7 linked regions of the Homo sapiens genome follow. The protein of the gene in region 6 purifies or fractionates together with the protein of the main gene of each other region. This does not show direct contact. Each region holds a gene or a part of one and is shown on either strand. Other genes may lie near its edges. The genes, in order: URB1, ZNF346, DDX21, LIN28A, BMS1, LLPH and ZNF317.

What was found.
Region 1: the proteins of LLPH (region 6) and URB1 purify together in Homo sapiens (affinity purification with mass spectrometry; one large-scale study listed by BioGRID and IntAct). This does not show direct contact.
Region 2: the proteins of LLPH (region 6) and ZNF346 purify together in Homo sapiens (affinity purification with mass spectrometry; one large-scale study listed by BioGRID and IntAct). This does not show direct contact.
Region 3: the proteins of LLPH (region 6) and DDX21 purify together in Homo sapiens (affinity purification with mass spectrometry; 2 studies listed by BioGRID and IntAct, with this or other methods). This does not show direct contact.
Region 4: the proteins of LLPH (region 6) and LIN28A purify together in Homo sapiens (co-immunoprecipitation; one large-scale study listed by IntAct). This does not show direct contact.
Region 5: the proteins of LLPH (region 6) and BMS1 purify together in Homo sapiens (affinity purification with mass spectrometry; one large-scale study listed by BioGRID and IntAct). This does not show direct contact.
Region 7: the proteins of LLPH (region 6) and ZNF317 purify together in Homo sapiens (affinity purification with mass spectrometry; one large-scale study listed by BioGRID and IntAct). This does not show direct contact.

Annotation. Positions count from the first base shown.
Region 1 is NC_000021.9:32,351,513-32,355,012, reverse strand, and holds part of URB1 (nucleolar pre-ribosomal-associated protein 1), read left to right. Parts: intron 1-15; coding exon 16-154; intron 155-909; coding exon 910-1,080; intron 1,081-2,106; coding exon 2,107-2,303; intron 2,304-3,500.
Region 2 is NC_000005.10:177,043,196-177,046,695, forward strand, and holds part of ZNF346 (zinc finger protein 346), read left to right. Parts: intron 1-531; exon of another isoform or gene 532-1,021; coding exon of another isoform or gene 1,022-1,024; intron 1,025-1,193; coding exon 1,194-1,338; intron 1,339-3,500.
Region 3 is NC_000010.11:68,966,170-68,969,669, reverse strand, and holds part of DDX21 (nucleolar RNA helicase 2), read right to left. Parts: intron 2,653-3,500; coding exon 2,467-2,652; intron 695-2,466; coding exon 549-694; intron 1-548.
Region 4 is NC_000001.11:26,424,317-26,427,816, reverse strand, and holds part of LIN28A (protein lin-28 homolog A), read right to left. Parts: intron 2,515-3,500; coding exon 2,330-2,514; intron 1,576-2,329; coding exon 1,359-1,575; 3' UTR 1-1,358. UniProt on the Homo sapiens protein: RNA-binding protein that inhibits processing of pre-let-7 miRNAs and regulates translation of mRNAs that control developmental timing, pluripotency and metabolism.
Region 5 is NC_000010.11:42,827,795-42,831,294, forward strand, and holds part of BMS1 (ribosome biogenesis protein BMS1 homolog), read left to right. Parts: intron 1-2,466; coding exon 2,467-2,628; intron 2,629-3,071; coding exon 3,072-3,302; 3' UTR 3,303-3,500. UniProt on the Homo sapiens protein: GTPase required for the synthesis of 40S ribosomal subunits and for processing of pre-ribosomal RNA (pre-rRNA) at sites A0, A1, and A2.
Region 6 is NC_000012.12:66,118,403-66,120,750, forward strand, and holds part of LLPH (protein LLP homolog), read right to left. Parts: 3' UTR 1-2,348. UniProt on the Homo sapiens protein: In hippocampal neurons, regulates dendritic and spine growth and synaptic transmission.
Region 7 is NC_000019.10:9,143,397-9,146,896, forward strand, and holds part of ZNF317 (zinc finger protein 317), read left to right. Parts: intron 1-3,500. UniProt on the Homo sapiens protein: May function as a transcription factor. May play an important role in erythroid maturation and lymphoid proliferation.

The sequences.
Region 1 (3,500 bases), on a different chromosome or scaffold from region 6:
CTCTTTAATGCCCAGATTTTATTGACATTGGTGGCGAATCCCTATTCATACACAGACAAAGCATCTGACTTTGTCCAAGAAGCAAGCATGCTGCAGGCCACTATGACGAAGCAAGAAGCCGATGACATGAGCATTCCCATCTCCCACATTGACGGTATGTTCCATTCTGTTCTGCGCTGCTCAGAGGTCTGAAGACCAAGCCACAGTGACGTGTTAAGAGATTGAGAACAAGAACTGCACTAATGCCCTAGGCCAAGTGCACACAGTCCCTTTGCAGCAAAGACCAGCCTGTTCTGGAAATAATCTCCTTATGTGTTCATGTAATGGGAAACACTTGTTGTTTTATTTGCATAGTATTTACTGGGTGCCAGGTAGGGTTTTAAGCTCTTTTTAAGTTCTAACTCATGTAAATCTCATAAGCAACCCCAAGAGAAAAGAGTATTATTATTCTACTCATTTTATATAGAGATAAAGCGGCTGGGGCACAGAGAGGTTTAGTATAATAACTTGCTCAAGCTCATACAGCTACTACATAGCAAAGTCAGGATTAGAACGCAGGTACTCTGGCTCTGGCCTGTGCTTTAACCCTCACACTATTTTGCCTCTCAGATTTTGGCTTGTTTGCCTGAATATCTGGGTTAAAGTTCCTGGGCTTCTTGTGTCACTTGAGGAAACTTCAACCTATTACCACCTCAGCTGAATATCCTGCATTTTATCAGACAAAGATACAAAAGATTTCATAGGCAATGTTTTTGTCTGTTTAGGGTCAAACTATGTTAAATGCTCCCCCCAAGAGGAATTTGGCTTTTTTCTTTTTGCACGTATTCTGCTTCTGCCTCCCTGTGGGTATTTGCAGTGAAACCCTTCAGTGGCTCTCACATCAGCTGGATTCTCCTCTTTCTGTCTCAGATGTTCTCGACATGGTGGATGTCCTGGTGGAGGGCAGTGAAGGCTTGGATGAGGAAATAGGGTTCACGTTGAGTGAAGACATGATCCTGCTCACGTTCCCATTCAGTGCGGTAGTCCCTGCGGCCCTGGAAGCCAGGAATAAGTTGCTCCTTGGGACAGGCAATGAAGCAGGTACCTATGTATAGTCAGGATGTCTTGGCTGCACCTGGCCGGCTAGTCTGTGCAGGGTGGGAGGTGGGATTCCAGGGGCTCTGGGATCAATTGCTGAGAATCCAGGGCAATAGGAGGTCAGAACCCCCAGAGTGATAGCTACCCAGCCAGCAGAGCTAGGAGCACAGTGGGAGGGATCTTGGGGCTGGCTAGGCTTTTGGGAAATTGGTCATTTGAGCGTGAGTCTGAAATAATGTGTTTGCCTGGCTGCCCAGACAGCCTCTGTAACGTTGATGTTTTTTCGTCAACATTTATTCTTGATACGTTGATGTAGAGGATGAATCCTTCATACTTGTTGGATTTTCCAGGCAACTTAGACCCAAGGAAGTGCTCACAGATTATAGTAGCATGATTGGTTGGGAGAACTCAGGCTTTGCTGCAGTAACAAATAAGCCCTGACTTGTCAGTAGTTTAATAAATAAGGGTCTGTTTCTAGACCATGCTGTGGTCCAATACAGGCCAGGTGGCTCTTCTGGTTGGCTGTCCTTTAGGAGGTTGGTCAGGGATTCAGGCTGCTCCCGTTTTGTAGCTATGCCATCTCAATTTATGGCTTCCAAGATCACCATGGAAAGGGAACTGGAAAGGGTGGACAGTCAAGCAAGGGGTGTTATGGCCTGGAAGTGACTAACCAGGCATGTGGTCCCAGCCTACACGCAAGAGAGGCTTGTGTGCCGAGGCACAGTAAACGGATTGGTGAGCACCTAGCAAGTCCTGGTCCCAGGTGGCTTTTGCCTGGCCTTTTACATGCCTGGGTCTTCACTCCTGGGCCTCGGGAGTGGATGTCTGACTTTGCTGTATATGTTTAATAAAACAGAGCCTAGTACAGTCTCCAGTAGTAGCAATTCCTTCCCTGTGGTTATGTGTCCCCTCATGGAGTTGCATGAATTTTTCAGGGTCTTGCCTGTATGTGGAAGAAGGTGGTGTTGGTAGGTCACAGAAGGGTGGGCCCAGCCAGCCTCTTCCCATATGCATCTCGTTCCTTTGCAGCGGAAAACGTTGTGACATATCTGACGGCAGTGCTGACTGACCTCCTCCACACCCAGAGGGACCCCCTGGCTCTGTGTCTCCTGCTCCAGGCATATGATAAGCTTGAGCCTCCATGCCTGGTGCCTTGCTGCCAGCAGCTCTCACGGTTTAACAGATACTACAGCCTCTGGATCCCGGAGCAAGCCCGAGAGGCCTGGGTGAGCTGCAGCCACAGCTGTGGTCACTGCTGCTGTGCAGGGTTCTTCCCAGGGTCCCAGCTGGCTGGGCCACAGCTGTGCAGTTGGGTAGCCAGACAGCCTGCAGGGTGAAATTTCTTACCCTAAAGTCCCCTGCATAAGAGAGGAAGCTAAGTAGTATCCCTGGTGCTCAGCTAACATAACTGAACACACAGGACTCAGTGATGCAGCCAAATTAAATTCCCCATTGGCTCCCTGATAATGATAATAGGTTAATTCCTCTTCCAGCCTGGGGCAGGAGCGTTGCCTCTTCCTTTTTTTCCTTACCTTGTTATCTGTGCGTGCTTGTCTCCTGGCTCTCCTCTGCAGACCTTAGCATGGCCCTAGACAAACTGTGCTCAGCTGTCACACATGGCCCCTCAAGGCCTCCAGCAGGGTCTCTTCTGTTAAAGTTGGGGAAGGAAAGGAAAAAGTATATTTTCTTTTGCTGGGGACTACATTCTCTTAATGGGATTCTGGCTCCAATGTGCAGGGTATTTACAATGCTGTGTGGGGCACGAAATTTGTGGTATGCATTTTTGTGCATTCATTTCATTTTAGCTGCATTCGAAAAAGCAGTCAGTTTAGACCCTCCTTATCTTGTGATATTGGTAGCAATAGCCAACAGCGATTGCATGTTTTCTGTGTGTTTTTTGGAGGCATACCGGGTCCTGTACTAAGTGTACTATGTGTATTTTTGGCCGTTTAATCCTTACTGTAACTCTGAGAAGTAGGCCGGGACTCTCACCATCCTTTATGCATATGGGGAAACCGAGGCCCAGAGCGGTTCCAACACCAGTCAGTGGCGGAGTCAGGATTTGGCCCAGGCAGTCTGGCTCCAGAGCCCTGACCCATAATGTTGCCACCTTCCCCCACACGTAGGCCACAGTGATAGCCAGACAGCAACTTATGTGGCAGTATTAGAGGTTCTGTCCTGCCCCTCGTGGTTGCTTGGAGTGGGTGTCCACCTTCTGTGGAATAAGACTTAGCAGTGGTTCTCACCCTCCAGGGTGTGTCGGAATTCCCCAGAGGGCCTTTTCAAACTGGACTGCCGGGTTCCAGCCACAGTGTCTGGCCCGGCAGGTCTGGGTGGAGCCTGAGAATTTGCATTTCACACATGCTGCTGCAGGCCTGGGGAACACTGACAACCACCAAGTTTCAGGGCATGTTACAGCCTTG
Region 2 (3,500 bases), on a different chromosome or scaffold from region 6:
GCTTTGTTGCCCAGGCTGGTCTCAAATTCCTGGTCTCAAGTGATCCTCCCACCTCAGGCTCCCAAAGTACCAGGATTACAGGTATGAGCCACCACACCTGGCCCTTTTCTCACAATTTATAATTCAGAAAGGCAAGATAAACTCTATGACCCTGGGCAAGTTATTTTACATATTTGCACCCTATTCAGAGATCAGGCTTTCTGAGAGAGATGCTGGGATCCCTTTATGTAGTCTTGAAATACATGGTTTCCTAGCCTAATCATAATCAACAAGTAGAACGCAATGGGAGGCTGGGTGCGGTGGCTCATACCTGTAATCCTAGCAATTTAGGTGGCTGAGGCAGGCGGATTGCTTGAGCTTGGGAATTCGAGACCACCCTAGGCAATATGGTGAAACCCCGTCTCTATAAAAAATACAAAAATTAGCCGGGTGTGGTGGCATATTCCTGTAGTCTGGCTACTTGCAGGGGTGGGTGGGAGAATTGCTTGAGCCCTGGAGGTGGAGGTTGCAGTGAGCCGAGATCGTGCCACTGCACTCCAGCCTGGGCAACAGAGTGAGACCCTGTCTTAAAAAAAAAAAACCTAATGGTCCACTTGTTCAGCAAACTCTGAGCATCTACTGTGTGCCAGACTCCAGCTGGGTGTGAAGGATAAGAAACAAAAATGAGTCAAATAGTCCGTGTTCCAATGTCACACTTGAGTTCACAGAAAAGTCTCCTAAGCTATGACACTGTCAGTTTAGGGTGGCAAGTGGTATGACAGAGGTCTATTTAATGTACTCTGGGAGCACAGAAGAGGAGCAGGGTTAATTCTTCCTGGAATACACAAAGGGACTTGACAGTTGTTTACTGAATGATGTTTTTTTTTTTTTGAGAGAAAGTCCCCCAGAGGAAAAGCTTATATTTAAATTGGGTCTTGAAGGCTAAGCAGACACGCTGCCAAGCAGGAAAGGAAGGAAGCACATTTTAGACAGCAGGAATGGCCAAAGCAAAGCAAGGAAGCATCAGAGAATAAAGTGGGGGATGGTGAGTAGAGTCTGGGACAAAGTAGCTGGAGAAGAATCTAGAAAGTAGGTTGGGGTTAATGTGTGAGGGGGGCCATAAATGCCTGTTCTGTTATGGGCAGTGGGGAACCATTGAAGATTTTCTGGTGGGGCAGTGGTATGATCAGACCTGTGTTCTTTCTTCCAACCAGAAGAGCAGCAGAAGCAAAGACAAGAACCAGTGCTGCCCCATCTGTAACATGACCTTTTCCTCCCCTGTCGTGGCCCAGTCGCACTACCTGGGGAAGACCCACGCAAAGAACTTAAAGCTGAAGCAGCAGTCCACTAAGGTGGAAGGTACTGGTTTTCCTGAGTAGTGCTATAGTGGGACCCCTGCCGTCCTCAGGGCACTACTGCCAGGGGCTCACAGAGATCCTCACTGAGGCCACAGACTTGAAGAAGTTGAATTGCTTTTGAGAACCCTTAAAAATCTCCAAGTAGACCCAGCTTCACTGAAATGCAATCTCAGAATTATGCTCACCTAACCTCCCTTTCTTTGGTTATAGGTTTTTCTCTATAGGCTGAGCTTTTGTCCTGACTAATAATTATAACTCAGGAGTGCCAAAGTCCTCCAGGCCACGCATACCATGAGAGCATTCTATCTCCTACCTCTCCCACTAGATTTTTCCATCCCAGCATCCACCTGCCCTTATTACTGCATGTTCCAAGTTGAAAGCTAAATCCTTGTCTTTTTCACATGCTCAGGTTATGGCCTACTCACTTTAATCCTCAAAAGCTGCCTGTTCTCCTCAAGACAGGGACTTGCCTTTCAAAGCTGAATACTTCAGTGCTGCTACTACTGCCCCACAATCTGTAACTGCCATGAATTCATTCCCAGTACAGTGACTTCTGAAATAGCCCCCTTTATCTCGTCACGACTAGGGCTCAGCCCTCACTTTCATCTCATTAACTCCTGACTTTCTGGGGTTTTAACCTCTGCTAATTGCAATTAGTCAAGAGTGAAAGTTCTTTGATGTTTATTTCATTGTTTTCTTGATAATTTTTGCTTCTCTATTTTGGACCAAGAAGTAGACTACACTATTAGTAATACTATTATCCTTTTTGTGTTTACTGACAACTGTGTTTTGGAAGCCTTCAAAGGTAGGGTGAAAAATCACTCATAATTTTTTTTTTTTGAGATGGAGTCTCGCTCTGTTGCCTAGGTTAGAGTGCAGTGGCATGATCTCGGCTCACTGCAAGCTCTACCTCCCAGGTTCATGCCATTCTTCAGCCTCAGCCTCCCAAGTAGCTGGGACTACAGGTGCCCACCACCATGCCCAGCTAATTTTTTTGTATTTTTTAGTAGAAACGGGGTTTCACTGTGTTAGCCAGGATGGTCTCAAACTCCTGACCTCGTGATCCACCTGCCTCGGCCTCCCAAAGTGTTAGGAATACAGGCATAAGCCACCACGCCGGCCAAAACCTTTTTTTTTAAATAGAGATGGCTTCTCACTATATTGCTCAGGCTGGTCTTGAACTCCTGGCCTTAAGTGATACTCCCATCTCAGCTTCCCAGAGTGCTGGGATTACAGGCATGAGCCACCACACCTGGCCACTCATAATTACACCTTTTTATCACACCCACATCTAGTTATTCATGGTATGAAACAGCAGAATGTGGACTTTGAAGTCACAGAGTCCCAGGTTTAAAGCCTGGCACTGTTACTGTTTATATGACTTTTTTGTGTCTGAACTGCCTAACCTATAAAATGATAATAATACTGTCTACTTCATCGGTTGTGAGGATACAATAATGTGTATTAAAAACACAGGACATAGGCCGGGCATGGTGGCTCATGCCTGTTGTAATCCCAGCACTTTGGGAGGCTGAGGTGGGCAGATCACTTGAAGTCAGGAGTTCAAGACCAGCCTGGTCAACACGGTGAAACCCAATCTCTACTAAAAATAACAAAAATTAGCTGGGTGTGGTGGCACGAGCCTGTAGTCCCAGCTTCTTGGGAGACTGAGGCAAGAGAATCGCTTGAACCCGGGAGCTGGAGGTTGCAGTGAGCTGAGATCGCACCATTGTACACCAGCCTGGGGGACAGAGCAAGACCTCGTCTCAAAAAAAAAAAAAAAAAAACCAATTTTATAAGGTCACAGACTTCTCTTCCCACAAATGGGAAAATTCTCTGCATTATGCCTTGTCCCTGAAATTTCATACTCGAGATTATTTTCCATATTCACTTTCAGCTTTTGCCACATACTTTGTTTTTATATAGTTGTGATCATAATGCAGGTACCCTTTATATCCCGCTTTTACTTTTCATTTAATTTTACAGCTTAAGCACATTTCCATGTTATTACACAACTTTATAACTATATTTCTGAAATTAAACACTTTTTAATGTAAAGTAATATAATCATGTTGTAAGAGATAAGGAAAACATGGATAAATGGAAAGAAAAGTTACCCATAATTTTACCATTCACAGATAAACACTGTTAACATTTTGGTTT
Region 3 (3,500 bases), on a different chromosome or scaffold from region 6:
TATGTTTACATAACTCAGATAGATTTAAGTTCCAAATCATTCTGAAATGAAATGAGGCCATAGATGATGAAATTTTAAAAACACAGATATCGGGCCGGGCGTGGTGGCTCACACCTGTAATCCCAGCACTTTGGGAGGCCGAGATGGGCAGATCACGAGGTCAAGAGATTGAGACTATCCTGGCCAACATGGTGAAACCCTGTCTCTACTAAAAATACAAAAATTAGCTGGGCGTGGTAGCGCATGCCTGTAGTCCCAGCCACTCAGGAGGCTGAGGCAGGAGAATCACTTGAACCTGGGAGGTGGAGGTTGCAGTGAACGGAGATTGCGCCACTGCACTCCAGCCTGGTGACAGAGCGAGACTCCATCTCAAAAAATAAAAATAAAAACACAGATATCATATACAGCTCAAATAGAAATATTTTTCCTTGGCTTTTCACATGGATTTAGTATTTATCTGGAAAAAGAGCATTTGCCAGTCTTAATACTAACAGACAAGAAAAAAATATATACAATTTTATATTCTGGCAACTAAGTAAATAATTTACCTCCACAGTTATTGCCGTTTTCTGAGTCTTTTTACCAATCAGGTCCACCTGTTCATATGTAGATTTCATGTATTTCTTGGCAACATTAAATACCCAATGAGGGCAAGTTGCAGAAAAAAGCAATGTTTGGGGATTGTCTTCAGAATCTTTGAGGAGGGGGAAAAAAAAAGTCAGTATGAATAATCCAAACAAGCCTACATAGTATTCCACCTAACCTAATACTTCCACAGTCCATCAATGTTCACCAGCAACCACCTGAGGCCAAGTCGGGCACTGAGGACACAAAACTGGAAGACAGAGGTTTCCCAATGGGCAAAGAAATACCGCTAGGTAATTTATCTAAAAGATCCTTAAAATAGTGAAAGTACTTTAAAGTTATTTTGCTTTCTGACCATTAGGCTTTTGAATTACAAACGAAATCTATTCTAAGATTTCTATTCTCAATATTTTATGAATTTAGAATTCTTGTCCAATCATTGAGTCCAGCTACTATTTTTGTTTGTTCAATTCTACTTAAGAGTGACATCACATTCTCAAACATTCCAAATAGAAGTGTGATAGAACCCTTCTGGAGAGAATTTGACAATGTATATTGAGGAGCATGAATTTTTTACACTTTTAAGCTCAGTAATTCCACTTCTGGAAATCTATCCTAAAGAACCAATTCCAGGCCAGGCACAGTGGCTCATGCCTGTAATTCCAATGCTTTCAGAGGTGGAGGCAGGAGGATCACTTGAGGCCAGGAATCAAGACAAGCCTGGGCAACACAGTGAGACCCTGTCTCTATCAATAATAAAAACATTAGCCAGGCATGGTGGCGCACGCCTGTAGCCCTAAGCTACTCAGGAAGCTGAGGCCCAGGAGTTTAGGGATGCAGTGAGCTATGATGGTGCCACTGTACTATAGCCTGAGTGACAGGGTGAGGGCCTATCTTAAAAATAAAAAAAGGGCGGCCGCGGTAGAGCACATCTGTAATCCCAGCATTCTGGGAGGCCAAAGTGGGAGGGAAGATCACTTGAGTCCAAGAGTTCAAGACCAGCATGGTGAAACCCAGCTCTACAAAAAACAGAAAAATTAGCTGGGCATGGTGGCGCACATCTATAGTCCCAGCTACTCGGAGGATTGCTTCAACCTGGAAGGTGGAGGCTGCAATGAGCCAAGATCCCACCACTGCACTCCAGCCTGGGTGACAGATTTAGACCCTGTCTCAAAAAAAAAAACAAAAAACAATTCCAGATATTGAGGTGAGAAGCTATCTGTATAAAAGTGGCTAAACAGAACTATTTATATTGAATAAAAATCAAACTAGGCAGATGGTAGAATTAAGTCATGGCCAACCACTTCATACAGTATTTTTGCTGAATTTTTATATGTATAGTCAGAGTATAATCAACACATATATACAATAAAATGCAAAACATCAGGAATACACCAAAAGCAGACCACATCAAGATGACAGAAGATGGTATTTTTCTTTACTTTTCCAAGTTTTCCCCATTGTGGTAATATGATAAATCATGACTTTTTTTTTCCTCACCAGCTTTAATCCCAGAGTAATGACTTTTTTTTTTTAATCCAAGTTTCTAGATAAAATGAGCCCCATTCCAATTTCCCAAGGCTTTATTAATCTCTTAGAAAACTACTTAGTCACCAGGCCAGGCGCAGTGGCTCATGCCTCTAATCCCAGCACTTTGGGAGGGTGAGGCAGTCGGATCACCTGGGGCTGGGAGTTTGAGACCAGCCTGGGCAATATGGCAAAACCCCATCTCTACTAAAAATACGAGGCCAGGCGTGGTGGTGGGTGCCTGTAATCCCAGTTACTAGGGTGGCTGAGGCATGAGAGTCACTTGAACCCAGGAGACAGAGTTACCACCCTTCCTTTGGTCTTTTTTATCAGCTTCTTGAATTTGTGGATTACCTTTCTTGTATGCCACACTTAAAATCTCTTCCACTTGATCAGCAAATCCCATATCCAACATCTGGTCCACTTCATCCAGGACAACATGCTTAAGTTTGGTGAGATCTAGTTTGCCATTCTGTATGTGGTCTTTGATACGACCTGGTGTTCCAACCAGGATATCAATCCCATTCCTCATGCGTTCAACTATAAAAAACAATGACAAGATTTGCTGGGTTTTTAGTAAGTACTTTTATCTGTGTGGGGTACCACAGTTAACTGTATTGTTACTCTAAAATATTTGTTAAATACCTACAAGTACAAAGTAATATGCTAAGTAATAATGATAAAGATACTCATGGCACTCCTAATCTAGTGGGAAAAACATTAGAAGTGAAAAATATCAACAAAATTTAAAGCACCCAATTATAGTAAATATTTGAAGTGACAGTCTAGTGTACAAAGTGACATAAAAGAAATATGCAGCCGGGCGTGGTGGGTCACGCCTGTAATCCCAGCACTTTGGGAGGCCAAGGTGGGTGGATCATGAGATCAGGAGTTTAAGACCAGCCTGGCCAACATGGTGAAACACCATCTTTACTAAAACTACAAAAATTAACCAGGCGCAGTGGTGGGCGCCTGTAATCCCAGCTACTCGGGAGGCTGAGGCAGGAGAATCGCTTGAACCTGGGCAACAGAGGTTGCAGTGAGCCAAGATCACGCCACTGCACTCCAGCCTGGGCCACAGAGTGAGACTCTGTCTCACCAAATAAATAAATAAATAAATGAAAAAGAAAGAAAGAAATATGCACTACTGGAGGACAATAGCATCAGGAAAGAAATTACTTCCGGCTGGGCACGGTGGCTCACGCCTGTAATCCCAGCACTTTGGGAGACTGAGGCTGGCAGATCATGAGGTCAGGAGTTCGAGATCAGCCTGGCCGATATGGTGAAACCCTGTCTCTACTAAAAATACAAAAATTAGCCGGGCGTGGGAGCCTCCCAGGTTCACGCCACTCTCCTGCCTCAGCCTCCCGAGTAGCTGGGACTACAGG
Region 4 (3,500 bases), on a different chromosome or scaffold from region 6:
ACCCGAAAATTTTGAAAGGTTAAGGATCTCACCTTACTTCATATATCCATCCCTCGACAGCACAGGATTAAGTACAGGGGTATTGGTCTTTAAACTTATCCTTAGCAACTCTAGTTTTACAAACACACACACACCCTGTGGCACATGGTAGGCCTAACCTAATCTGGTGAAGAACAGATCTGGAGATGTAAAGCACGTCCTGTGCCATAGGATTAGACAACCCTCACCTAATCTTGGCTTGCTCTCTGGCCTTTTCACCGGGCCCAGCCTCTCCTAGCCTCTGTGTACCACCATTTCCTGTTTAGACTAATTCCCAATCTTCCAGTAGAAGGCAATCAAGTCATGGGGCCACCCAGTTAAAACCTAGTCTCCCATAAAACATTTTCAAGGCAGAGGGGGTTTCAAGAGGACACTATGGCAGAAAAGCCAGCTCTTATTGGCAAAAATGAGGTAGTTCAATAGGCTGTGCACTCCAAATAGTTGCTCTCCACGGTGGCAAAAACAACAAAAAGTAATTCCTGCTGCGCAGACCTGGAGCTGCTGCTGGCTATCCCTGAGATTGCTCATGTACCTGAGAACACAGTGCAGGAAATGAGGGCCTTAGATTAAAATATACAAAAATACAAAACCAGAATATTTATATTAAGGAAAAAAAGTTAAAATGCACAAGATACGTCATTCGCACACAGCTAGTGCAGTTGGCATCCTGGAGAAAGTGGGACCCAAGGTGCAGTATCCAAGGGAGCAAATAAATAAAATCACATTGGCCCAGAATGGGGCGGGGGTGAGCATAGAGCAGCAGGTCTGCAGCTGTTCCCCCAAACACCCTTTTTGCCATCATCATTACCCATTGCTTGGGACAGCTGCCAGCACCCTATCCCAAAAGTGGGTATGAGGATACAAGATGTGAAAAAAAAACAATGCTTACTCCTGAGAGATCTCCTTCCACAGAATGTAGTGGCTTGGCTCCATGAATCTGGTCTTATACTTAATCATTTCACTCTGGCATGGGAATTATTATATATCCTTCTTTAAAAGGAAAACAACTTCCCTATCCAGGCCACTTTCAAAAGCTGGAAATTCTGGGGATGGAGACTCAAAGTATGCAGGTTGTAGGGTGATTCCCCCCTCCTGGTTGCCCCCAGAACCCTCACTTGCATTTGGACAGAGCATGGTTGGAGTTCCTTTGACTCACCCTTTCCCCCCACCTAGAGGGAAGAAAGGGTGATGGTGTGAACCCAAGCCTGAGATACATGGCAGTGCCAACTAGCCCCAATGCACCCTATTCCCACTTTCTCCACTCTGCCTGCTCCTCAAAACTTCCTGATAGCAAAAGAATAGCCCCCACCCATTGTGGCTCAATTCTGTGCCTCCGGGAGCAGGGTAGGGCTGTGGATTTCTTCTTCTTCCTCTCGAAAGTAGGTTGGCTTTCCCTGTGCACTAGGGCCCTGCTGGGCCTTCAGCGGACATGAGGCTACCATATGGCTGATGCTCTGGCAGAAGTGGCACTTCTTGGGCTGGGGTGGCAGCTTGCATTCCTTGGCATGATGATCTAGACCTCCACAGTTGTAGCACCTAGTACAAAGCAAGATCGTAAAAGTAAGAGAAAGGAGCAAGAAGAGGCCAGATGCCTCCCACGAATGAGGACACCTGGGCTCTGGTACAGGTTTGTCACTTACTTCCCTTCCCAGAGACCAAACTTCCCACTTGCAAAAGGAGGACTATTACTAAATGATCTCTAAGTCCTTTCCACATCTAATTGTCTAGGTGATCTCTTCAGATTCATGTCAACTTGAAAATACCAAGATACCAGAAATATAAGTTACTGACCCCAACTAGGAACTGCAACTTGGGGGATAGGAGAGATTCTTCCATACCCTTAATATAGGAGAAATTAAAGAAGCCAAATTATAGTATCTGTTCAGAGCTAAGGGGCTTTAAGCCCAAGCAAGATTAAGGAAACCAGCCATTTGCAGACCTGGTAAAGCAGCAACAGATATAGATAATACTGTCTTGTCCCACCATTTGCAAATCTATGATCTCCTTTAATTCTAAAACCATCCTAGGATGTTAGTATCACTGCCTCACTTAACAATTGAGGCTTAGAGACCACAGAGCAAACTTACTTGTCCCAAGTAGCACTAAGTCACCCCCAGTGGCCTCCTCACCTACTGCCCTTGCCCACACCTATTGCAGGCGCTCAGCCTTCCAGATGCTGCCAGGGACCACAGGCTTCCCTTTGTCTTTTGCAGTGTGACCCAAAAAGTGACAGGATTGGGAGACTGGGGATGCCCTTAGCAACCTATATAAGCTGCCTTCCAATCCATACCTGTCTCCTTTTGATCTGCGCTTCTGCATGCTCTTTCCTTTTGGCCGCCTCTCACTCCCAATACAGAATACTCCACCAGGTCCGGTGACACGGATGGATTCCAGACCCTTGGCTGACTTCTTAAAGGTGAACTCCACTGCCTCACCCTCCTTCAAGCTCCGGAACCCTTCCATGTGCAGCTTACTCTGGTGAAGGGAAATGCAGTAAATTTTAACATTAATTTCCATTATTATACCAAAAGACAAGGAACTCTTATTCCTGTAGGGTAGGAATCAAATGTGATGGTACTCCTATTTTACTGGTAAGGAAACTGACTCAAAGAGTCACTACGATTAAGAACAACAAAGTCTACCAGTACATTAACAAAAATCGTAATTATATAAGCAGATGCCATGACATTTTTGTAGCTATTCAGGTTTAAAGTTCTTAATAAAATAGAACAGAGGGCCGGGTACGGTGGCTCACACCTATAATCCTAGCACTTTGAGAGGCTGAGGCGGGAGGATCACCTGAAGTCAGGAGTTCGAGACCAGCTTGGCCAACATGGTGAAACTCTGTCTCTACTAAAAATAAAAAAAATTAGCTGGGCGTGGTGGCGGGCACCTGTAATCCCAGCTACTTGGGAGACTGAGGCAGGAGAATTGCTTGAACCCAGGAAGCAAAGGTTGCAGTGAGCTGAGATCACACTATTGCACTCCAGCCTGGGCGACAGAGTGAGACTTTGTCTCAAAAACAAACAAACAAACAACAACAAACAGAAAAATTTGTAAATACAAGCATTTGGAAGAAATCAACAAATATAAAATTACGAAATTTAAAGTGTCACACTATAGAGGTTGCAGTGAGCCAAGATGGCGCCTTTGCACTCCAGCCTGGGCAACACAGCAAGACTTCGTCTCAAAAATAAATAAATAAAATAAAAGTAAAAATAGCTGGGCATGGTGGCTCAGCCACACACGGTGGCTTACGCCTTTAACCCCAGCACTTTGGGAGGCTGAAGCAGGTGGATCACGAGGTCCAGAGTTCGAGACCAGCCTGGCCAACATGGTGAAACCCTGTCTCTACTAAAAATACAAAAATTAGCCGGGTGTGGTGGTGGGCGCCTGTAATCCCAGCTACTTGGGCAGTTGGGGCAGGAGAGTTGCTTGAACCCCGGAGGCAGAGGTTTCAG
Region 5 (3,500 bases), on a different chromosome or scaffold from region 6:
GCTGCTTTGGCTGTCTTTGTCAGGGGATGAGCGCAAGGGGCTATTGATCGGCCCCTTGCTGGCATCACTCCCTCTTAAACTTTTCACTGGGTACTCTTTTGAACTATTTTTTTCCCCACCATATACATGTATTTTTAAAACATTAATGTGCTAATTTCTATTAAAGCAATGTGGATTTTTCTGAAAGTTTTAATGTTTTAATAAGCTTTTTATTGAAATGTTAATGTACATACAGAAGAGTGCCCAAATCATAAGTGTGCAGCTAGATGAACTGTAGCACACCAGCTGCCACGCCCTGGACCAAGCAGTAGCCTCGCCCTGTGGCCTCTCCCAGGCACTGCCTCCCCAACCCACAAAATAGCTACTTTGCCAGTTCCTGACGTAGATTTGTTCTGCCTGGTTTTGACTTTTATAAAATACAGCACATTCTATTTAGCCTGGCTTCTTTGGTTGAGTATTACAGAACACATCCATGTTCTTGTCTATGGCAGACATTGATTTATTGTCATTGTTGAGTTCCAGTATATGACTGTGTCACCATTTATCCATTGATGGGTAAAATGATTTCCTATTTTTGGCCGTTATCCCACGGCCCTTAACACTAAGGTCTGGATATGGGACTTGCAGGTACGGAGGGGCACACACACTTCTGCTGGAGGATCCCTGGGTAGGGTGGAGACTCCAGGGCACCTGTGCTCTGCTTCAGTGTGGAGGCTTCTGTGTCGTGTTCTGGGAGCACAGCGGCTTGGCCTCCACCACCAGCAGCAGCTTAAAGAGTTCCTGCTGTTCCACGTGCTTGCTGACAATTGGCCTCTTCAGTTTTTTTTTTTTTATTTTAGGTTTTCAATGCCTGCCTGGACTTGTGTTTTCATTTAGATTTTGGTTTCTTAGAACTGTTGTTATTCTCTTCACAGCTTAACAATGCATTTGAAAAGATTTGTTTTCATGTGGAGTGTTCAGTTTTGTAATAAGAGGGTTGTTCAAGGCATCAGTCTGCCACTCTGCTAGAAACAGAAGTCTCCCAGGCATTTCTTTTTATATAAAGTAGTTAATGAAATTTTGAACCGTCTTACATGAATTTTTATTAAAATACACTTCAGGATGTGGTGCCCATTATCCATTCTACTCTTTTGTAACAAGTAGATTTCTCTGAATTCTTGAATTCAAAAACAATCGGGGTTCCTAAACAAAGAATATGGAATATTATTGGGGATGATGTCTTTAATAATACATTTCAAGATAGGAGAAACTTGTTCTATATAGTTGACTTTAACAAAAGCCTAGGGCAAAACTTTCAATTTATTAACAGTATTTATGAGGCAGTTAAGAATTTGGGTCATCCTCCGTCTCCACTAAAAATACAAAAAATTAGCCAGGCGTGGTGGCGGGCGCCTGTAGTCCCAGCTACTCGGGAGGCTGAGGCAAGAGAATGGCGTGAACCCAGGGGCAGAGGTTGCAGTGAGCCGAGATCATGCCACTGCACTCTAGCCTGGGCGACAGAGCGAGACTCCATCTCAAAAAAAAAAGAATTTGGGTCATCTCAATTAAATATAGAATTTAAGATTACCTTGAAAATTCAGTGCAGAGTATTTTGCCTTCATCTGTTGTTTGAGTCTCCCTTCTTTTAGCCATCCTTCCATCAGAAATAGAATACCAAGTTAAACTTCTTAATTAGAATCAGGAATCAGGACTCTTTGGCTGCTGATTGAAGGAAGAACTGTCCTTAAATCCAGAGTGGGCCAGTTGTGGTGGCTCATGCCTGTAATCCTAGCACTTTGGGAGGCCAAGGCAGGTGGATCACCTGAGGTCAGGAGTTCAAGATTTCAAGACCAGCATGACCAACATGGTGAAACCCCATCTCTACTGAAAATACAAAAATTAGCCGGGCGTGGTGGTGTGTGCCTGTAGTCCCAGATACTTGGGAGGCTGAGACAGGAGAATTGCTTGAACCCAGGAGGTGGAGGTTGCATGAGCCGAGATCACGGCACTGCTCTCTAGCCTGGGCGTCAAGGCAAGACTCCATCTCAAAAAAACAAAACAAAACAAAAAAAACATCCAGAGTGGTTGATAGTCAAGACAAAAAGCTAGATTATTTTTGTTAGTCTGGGAAATAAGCACCTCAGTGGCCCAAAGACAAGGCCTGAAATTTCCATGAAAAGAAACTGGGATCTATTCATCTGTTCTGTTGAGACCCCATAGTTCCATACCATAGAAATGGGCACAGTGGGTTTTGGGGGGAGAGTTGTAAGTGTAAGCTGTCTGTTCCTCTGTTTACTGAGAATTGTGGGTGTCCACTGAGGCAGTTCATATTTGGCAGATGATTGAGTCCTGATTTCTCAGGGCCGGCAGACTCTGGTGTTACTAATCTTGTGGAAAAGTCAACCCATTGAGAAGATTTTATGCAGAAGTTTTAAATGCACATTGATCATAATTTGAATATGTCACAGTCTTTGTTTTTCTTTTCAGCCAATCCTGAGGCAAAAGAAACATTTTAATTCACTGCACATTCCAAAAGCCTTGCAGAAGGCCCTGCCATTTAAGAACAAGCCCAAGACCCAAGCAAAGGCAGGCAAGGTGCCAAAGGACAGGCGGAGACCGGCCGTCATACGCGAGCCTCATGAAAGAAAGGTACTGTTGCCCATGCTGTACTGCACGCTGCGTTTAGATAGGAAAAGAACACTCTCAATAGCACACTTCCTGTTTCTACTGTAGTCTCAGTTATTCAGGGCACTGGAACTAAAGTCAGAGGAAGAGCCAGAGTCCATTTCCCTTTCTTTGCCTGGTCCTGCTCTGCCCTGTGCTTTTCATGGGGGATAACAGGTACATGGCTGGGGAACCCTTCTGTCTCGGTTAGCTGCACACAGTGTCCACAGAATGATGAACAGAGGTGGTAAAGGTAAAATGGGATCACACCTGTGTCTCCATGCCAACAATGACTTCCTAGCACAGGATGCATTTTCATGCAGTTAATATTCATTTGGATCGTGGGTTGCCTCTAGTCTTAGTGCTTAGGATGCGAGTGTGTGGTGTCTGAGAGCATTCTGATACTCACCGGCTTTTGTCCTTGTCAGATCCTTGCACTGCTGGATGCTCTGAGTACGGTGCATAGTCAGAAGATGAAGAAGGCCAAGGAGCAGCGGCACCTGCACAATAAAGAGCACTTCAGAGCCAAGCAGAAGGAGGAGGAGGAGAAGCTGAAGCGGCAGAAGGACCTCAGGAAGAAGCTCTTCAGAATTCAGGGGCAGAAGGAAAGAAGAAACCAGAAGTCCAGTTTGAAGGGGGCTGAGGGCCAATTGCAGTGAGCCTTTGGACTGGAGGGACTGTCCCTGGATCTGCGGAGGTAGACAGTTTCAAACATCACAGTTTGAATGCCTGTGAATGACAAGTCAGTGGGAAAGAGCTCAAGAGATGTCTCTACTCAAACTGTGCCTGCAGGAGGAGGAACAGAGAAGCCTGGGCTGCTGGGACTGGGTTCATTCTCATGACTTGGGGCTGTCGAG
Region 6 (2,348 bases):
GTCTGAGGCCTTCACATTCACTCATGGCTTACTCATTGACTCACCCCAAGCACGAGTCCTCCAAGCACTATTCATAAGTGGTACAGGTGTACCATTTTTTTATCTTTTATACTGTATTTTTACTGTACCTTTTCTATGTTTAGATACACAAATACTTCCCATTGTGATACAATTGCCTACAGTACTCAGTACAGTAACTTGCTTGACCAATTTGTAGCCTAGAAGCAATAGGCTATATCACATAGCCTAAGTGTAGTAGACGATACCCTCTAGATTTGTGTAAGTACAGTCTATGATATTCACACAATGATTAACGATATTACCTAGTGACACACTTCTCAGAACACATCCCAGTCATTTAGTGACATATGACTATATATGGGAGGATGGGCATGGGTTATATGCAAATATTTCACCAGTTTATGTAAGCGATTCGAGCATCTGTGGATTTTGGTATCTGTGAAGATCCTGGCACCAATCCCCGATAGATTCTGAAGGATAACTCTACAGTGTTTGAATCCATTTTGCTACATTCCAACCAAATGCCTGTCCACCTTAGACTGACACCTCAAGGATCCCAAGGTGCCCATTTCAGCTCCCAAAATCTTGGTTAGAAGGCGCTTCCTTAAATCAAATAAAAGTCTGTCTCTCTGTAGCTTTCCATCATAGGTATTCATTCTATACTCTGGGACAGGCGGCTTGCTCACTACTTAGCAGTTGCATGACTTTGGGTAAATTTAGTTAACCTTTCAAACTGTTTTCTCATCTGAAAATAGGGATAATTAAAGTATTGATCCCACAGTGTTTTAAAGATTAAATAATATACATAAAGCATTTAAGAGAGTACGCATTCTCTAAATGTTGGCTGTTGGGTTATTTTTACTGCTTGCCTACCAAATTAAGCTTATTTGGCAACACATTGTATTTTCTCCCCTGCTCTAAAATAACTGCAAAAGACTCTTGGCATTCAACTGCGGAAAATTTAGGGTTTTGTAAGCAGGCCCAAAAGTGGCCCTGGGCCTCCTGGCTACCTGACAGTCCTCTGGAAACAGCAGAGTGACCTTTGACCTGATGTAAGTATTTAACAGTCCCACCTCACCCCTAAACATTTCCTTGTAAAATTGGTATGTGTCTACTGCAACAGTGTTTTTATTAATACATGCAGGCAAATAGAGGGAAAAAGACATATATTTTGTGTTTAGCACAAATTTGAATCACTCTGCCAGATGGCATCAGAAGTTAGTCACTTAACTAGTAAGATTAGCCAACAGCTTAGCATCTGCATTTCTATTGTAGTATTTATAAATTTGGCAATGCCTTAGATTCCTCCCAATTTTATGTTGTGGTCAGCACTTCCCTAAATTACACATTGCTGCCCCTCACCATCACCACCAGTCCATTTCAGATATTTGATTCAAGTCATTTATAGCTATTTTTCTTCTCCAACTCTTAAGCCATATTCCAGAAACACGGATCCAAATTTTGAAAATATCTGAATTTCCTAATAAGCAAATATATACTGCTGCATCCTTATTTGATGTAGCATGTGAATTACATAGTGGGAAGAGATATCTACACTAATGTGACAGTAGAAAATAGGATGTGGTCAAAACCACTACTTGATTCTACCTTAGAGCTTCAACTGCAGTTTGCATTTCTTCTCTGATTAGTACCTTGGGCAACTACTGATCATGGCCTACACCTTCCCCTTTTGGATTGGTCAGCCCATTCCTAATGAAGTGTCACCTGAGGAAATCCAGTCTGCCTTAGGCCTAGAGATTTGAGGAGGGTTCTGTACATCATTATTCTACTTAAACCTGCTCTTTATCTGATCCTGAGCCCACATGAACCCAATCTATCACAGGTTGACCCAAAAATAGGTATTCTATCCTAAAATCACCTTTCTCTCTTAGCAAGAGTTTGCACATCCTTGAGAGGCAGAATGGCATTGTAAGAGTATAGGCTCTAGAGCCACACTGCCTAAATTTGAATCCCAGATTTCAGTTTTAGTTGTATGGCCTGTGTGCCTCAGTTTCCCCATGTGTAAACAGAGATTACATTAGTACCAAACTCAGATAACATTAGTACCAAACTCATGAGATTGCTGGGCAGATTAAATGAGTTAATACTTGAAGCAGTTTTGATCATCTTTAAATTATATTTTGATTTCAGACTTAATTTCTTAAAACACAAAAAGTGTTACATTCAATTCCTAATGTGATTTAGCTCACTCAATCTAATTCCAAAATGATTTGGTGCTTAGCTTGAGCTCCATCTTGTGGCTTTACAGCAATTCTCTGGAAAATGTCAGTCAAAAAGATGACAAATTTCAAAAAAATAAGCTAATT
Region 7 (3,500 bases), on a different chromosome or scaffold from region 6:
TCTTTCCAGTTTCTTATGTTGAATGCCTGTCACATCCCAAAGAATTGCAGTATCATACTTTATTGTATTTTAATTATAAATATCAAATATCATGGCTTCTTTGGCATGCAGATTTAGAATTTTTTTCTTTTAATTTTCATTTCTGTGACTTTTTTTCTGGTTATCTTTTGGTCATTGTTTGCCAACTGCATTGCTCTGTGGTCAAGCATTTTCTGAGACAAACATGGCCCCATGAGTGCTGTCTCATCATGTTCAATCTGCACATAGTTATTGAACTGCCTGCTTAAACTGGATTTGTGAGAGCTCTGGTGGTGGCTTCATCCATTTCTCCTTAGAATTCTGTCCCCCCTTTTTTTTTTTTAATTTTTGTGTTTTCCTTTTTTTTGAGGCTGTGTTTTATACACACAGGCACACACACACACCTCTTTTTGGATTTATAACTTTTTATTATGTAATACTTCATTTTTCTCTATGAGCCTTTTTGCCTTAATCTATTCTGTCTGATACTAACATTCAAACCAGCTTTCTTTTTTTTTTTTTTTACTTGCCTTATATATCCTTTTATTTCCATTCTTATTGTACTCTTTTTTCTTTCTTTCTTTCTTTCTTTCTTTCTTTTTTTTGAGACGGAGTTTCACTCTTTTTGCCCAGGCTGGAGTGCAATGGCGCGATCTTGGCTCACTGCAACCTCCACCTCCTGGAATCAAGTGATTCTCCTGTCTCAGCCTCCCAAGTAGCTGGAAGTACAGGCGCATGGCACCACACCCAGCTAATTTTTTTATTTTCAGTAGAGATGGGGTTTCATCATATTGGTCAGGCTGGTCTCGAACTCCCAACCTCAGGTGATCCACCTGCCTTGGCCTCCCAAAGCATTGGGATTACAGGCATGAGCCACCGCGCCCGGCTCTTATTGTATTCTTATATTTTAGATATCTCTTGTACGTAGCATATAATTGGATTAATCTATTCTGTGAATATTAGTATTTTAGTTAAAGCATTTATTCTGTTAGCATCTTCTGTATTAATATATTTGAATGTTACATTTGTCTTCTGTTTTTTCTCTAGCTTCTTTTGTGTATTTTTGTCATTCTCCTTTTTTATTTTCTGTACATTTTGAATTTATTTACTCTATTATTTCAGTGGTTGTTCTAAATAATTCTTACCCATGCTCATTCACTAAATCTAGATTTGCATATGTTACTCTCCTGATTTACATGGTTTTCTTATGCATTTTCATTCTTTCTTTATTGATATATCATAGTTGCACATATTGAGTTCTTTTTTTAAACCTCAGAAGAAATTATTATTGCTATTGCATACCATCATTTCTTGTTTCATTATACTCACATGTTTATCACTTTGAGCACTTTACTTGGTTCTTACACTTTTTGGTGTAATTCTTCCACTGTTTGCTTTGGTTCTTTAATTACTTCTTTCTCCCTGAGGTATGTCTTTGATGATGTCTCTTTTCTGTGGGTTGCAAGCCCACAGGAACTTTGTTTTTTGGTGCTCAGAAAACACCTCTTTCTCTCTTTCTCAGTGGACATTTTTGGTGGTAATAGAATTTTATATTTCAGAACTATGAAGATGTTCCATTATCTTCTGGCTTCCACTGTTAATGATGAGAAGTCAGCTGTCAGTCTAATGTTTGTTTGTTTGTTTTCTGAGACAGAGTCTCACTCTTGTTGCCCAGGCTGGAGTGCAATGGCGTAATCTCGTCTCACTGCAACTTCTGCCTCCTGGGTTCCAGCAATTCTCCTGCCTCAGCCTACTGAGTCGCTGGGATTACAGGCATGGGCCATGACACCCAGCTAATTTTTGTATTTTTAGTAAAGACAAGGTTTCACCATGTTGGCCAGGCAGCGGTTTTAGGAGCCTAGAAATGTGAGTTTTTCGTTTTGTTTTGTTTTGAGACAGGGTCTTGGTATGTTGCCCAGGCTGGTCTCGAACTCCTGCGTGCAAGTGATCCACCTGCCTTGGCCTCCCAGCATGCTGGGATTACAGGTGTGGGCCACCATGCCCAGGCTTACTTTGTTTCTTAATGGAGAGATATTTACGGTGTGTTTTAACAAGACCTCCAGGTGACTCCCATGTAACTTAAAGTTTGAGAACTATTGCTTAAAAGGTAACCTGTCTTTTTCTCCTCTGGCTGCTGTTCAGATATTCTTTTTACCGTTGGTATTATCTGGTTCATTGTGCTTAAGATTTTATCTCTCTTCAATCTGTTTATATTTTCCTTCAAAATGAAAAATCTACAGCCACTATATTTTGCAGTGATTGCCTAGGCTCCTTCTCTGTCTCTCATCAGTAACTCCAGTTAGAAATGGTTCAATTCCTTATCTTCTGCCCCCACGTGGTTCTTAGCTGTATTTATGTTCCTCAACTCTTTTTCTGTGCTTCCCTTGCATTTATTGCTACAACTGGCTTTGAAACTTCAGCCTTCATAAAAATTTCATGTAGAGTTTATTAAAATACTGATTCATCAGCCCACCCCAAAGAGAATTGAACTGAGATATGATCTGGGTGTCAGAGTTACTTAAAGTGTTCCAGGGGACGCTTATGCAGCAGACTATATTTAAGAAACAAATTATTATTATTATTATTATTATTGGCTGTGTATAATCTAAAAGCTATTTACTTAGGGCTTTTGTTGTGGGTTTCCATTTTGCTTTTTTTTTAGCAATTGTAATTGCCCTTTAGAAATCATAAATTTTTAATTTTCTGAATGTTAATTTCTTGCCAGCACATGAATTTGAAACCTATCATCTGTCTGTACTTTGTGTTGCATTTGAAATAGTTATGCATGGAAGGTTTAATTGGGGCACCTAGGTTGCTTGTTGGAAACAGAATTCCTACCCTGCTCCCCACCCCCTGGGACATCTCATCTAGCTGGTTGAAAGGAGGGTATATTGATTTACTAATGTAATGCATTTCTGGACCAAGAAAATGGCATATGATGTTCTCACAACCTTTGTTGCCTTCTCTGTCTCTCGCTATATATATATTGTATATATTATTTATATACTTTTTTTCTTTTTTTTTTTTTTGAGGCAGTGTCTCATTTCTGTCACCCAGGCTGGAAGTGCAGTGGCATGATCTTGGCTTACTGCAACCTCCGCCTCTCAGGTTCAAGCAATCTTCCCACCTCAGCCTCCCAAGTAACTGGGACTACAGGCATGTGCCACCATGCCTGGCTAATTTTTTTGTATTTTTAGTAGAAACGGGGTTTCACCATGTTGGCCAGGCCAGTCTTGAACTCCTGACTTCAAATGATCTGCCCGCCTCAGCCTCCCAAAGTGCTGAGATTACAGGCATGAGCCACCATGCTGGGCCTATATTTACGTGAATAACAGTGGTAGAAATGGTTCTAGCAAGGGCAGAAATACCAGTCAGTAAAAGTAACAAAATAATTATTCTCTCTACAGTATTTACATCTGCAAATTCTGAATATCCTGGGATACTGTGATTAAGTTGAATATGGGGATAAAATCAAATATTGG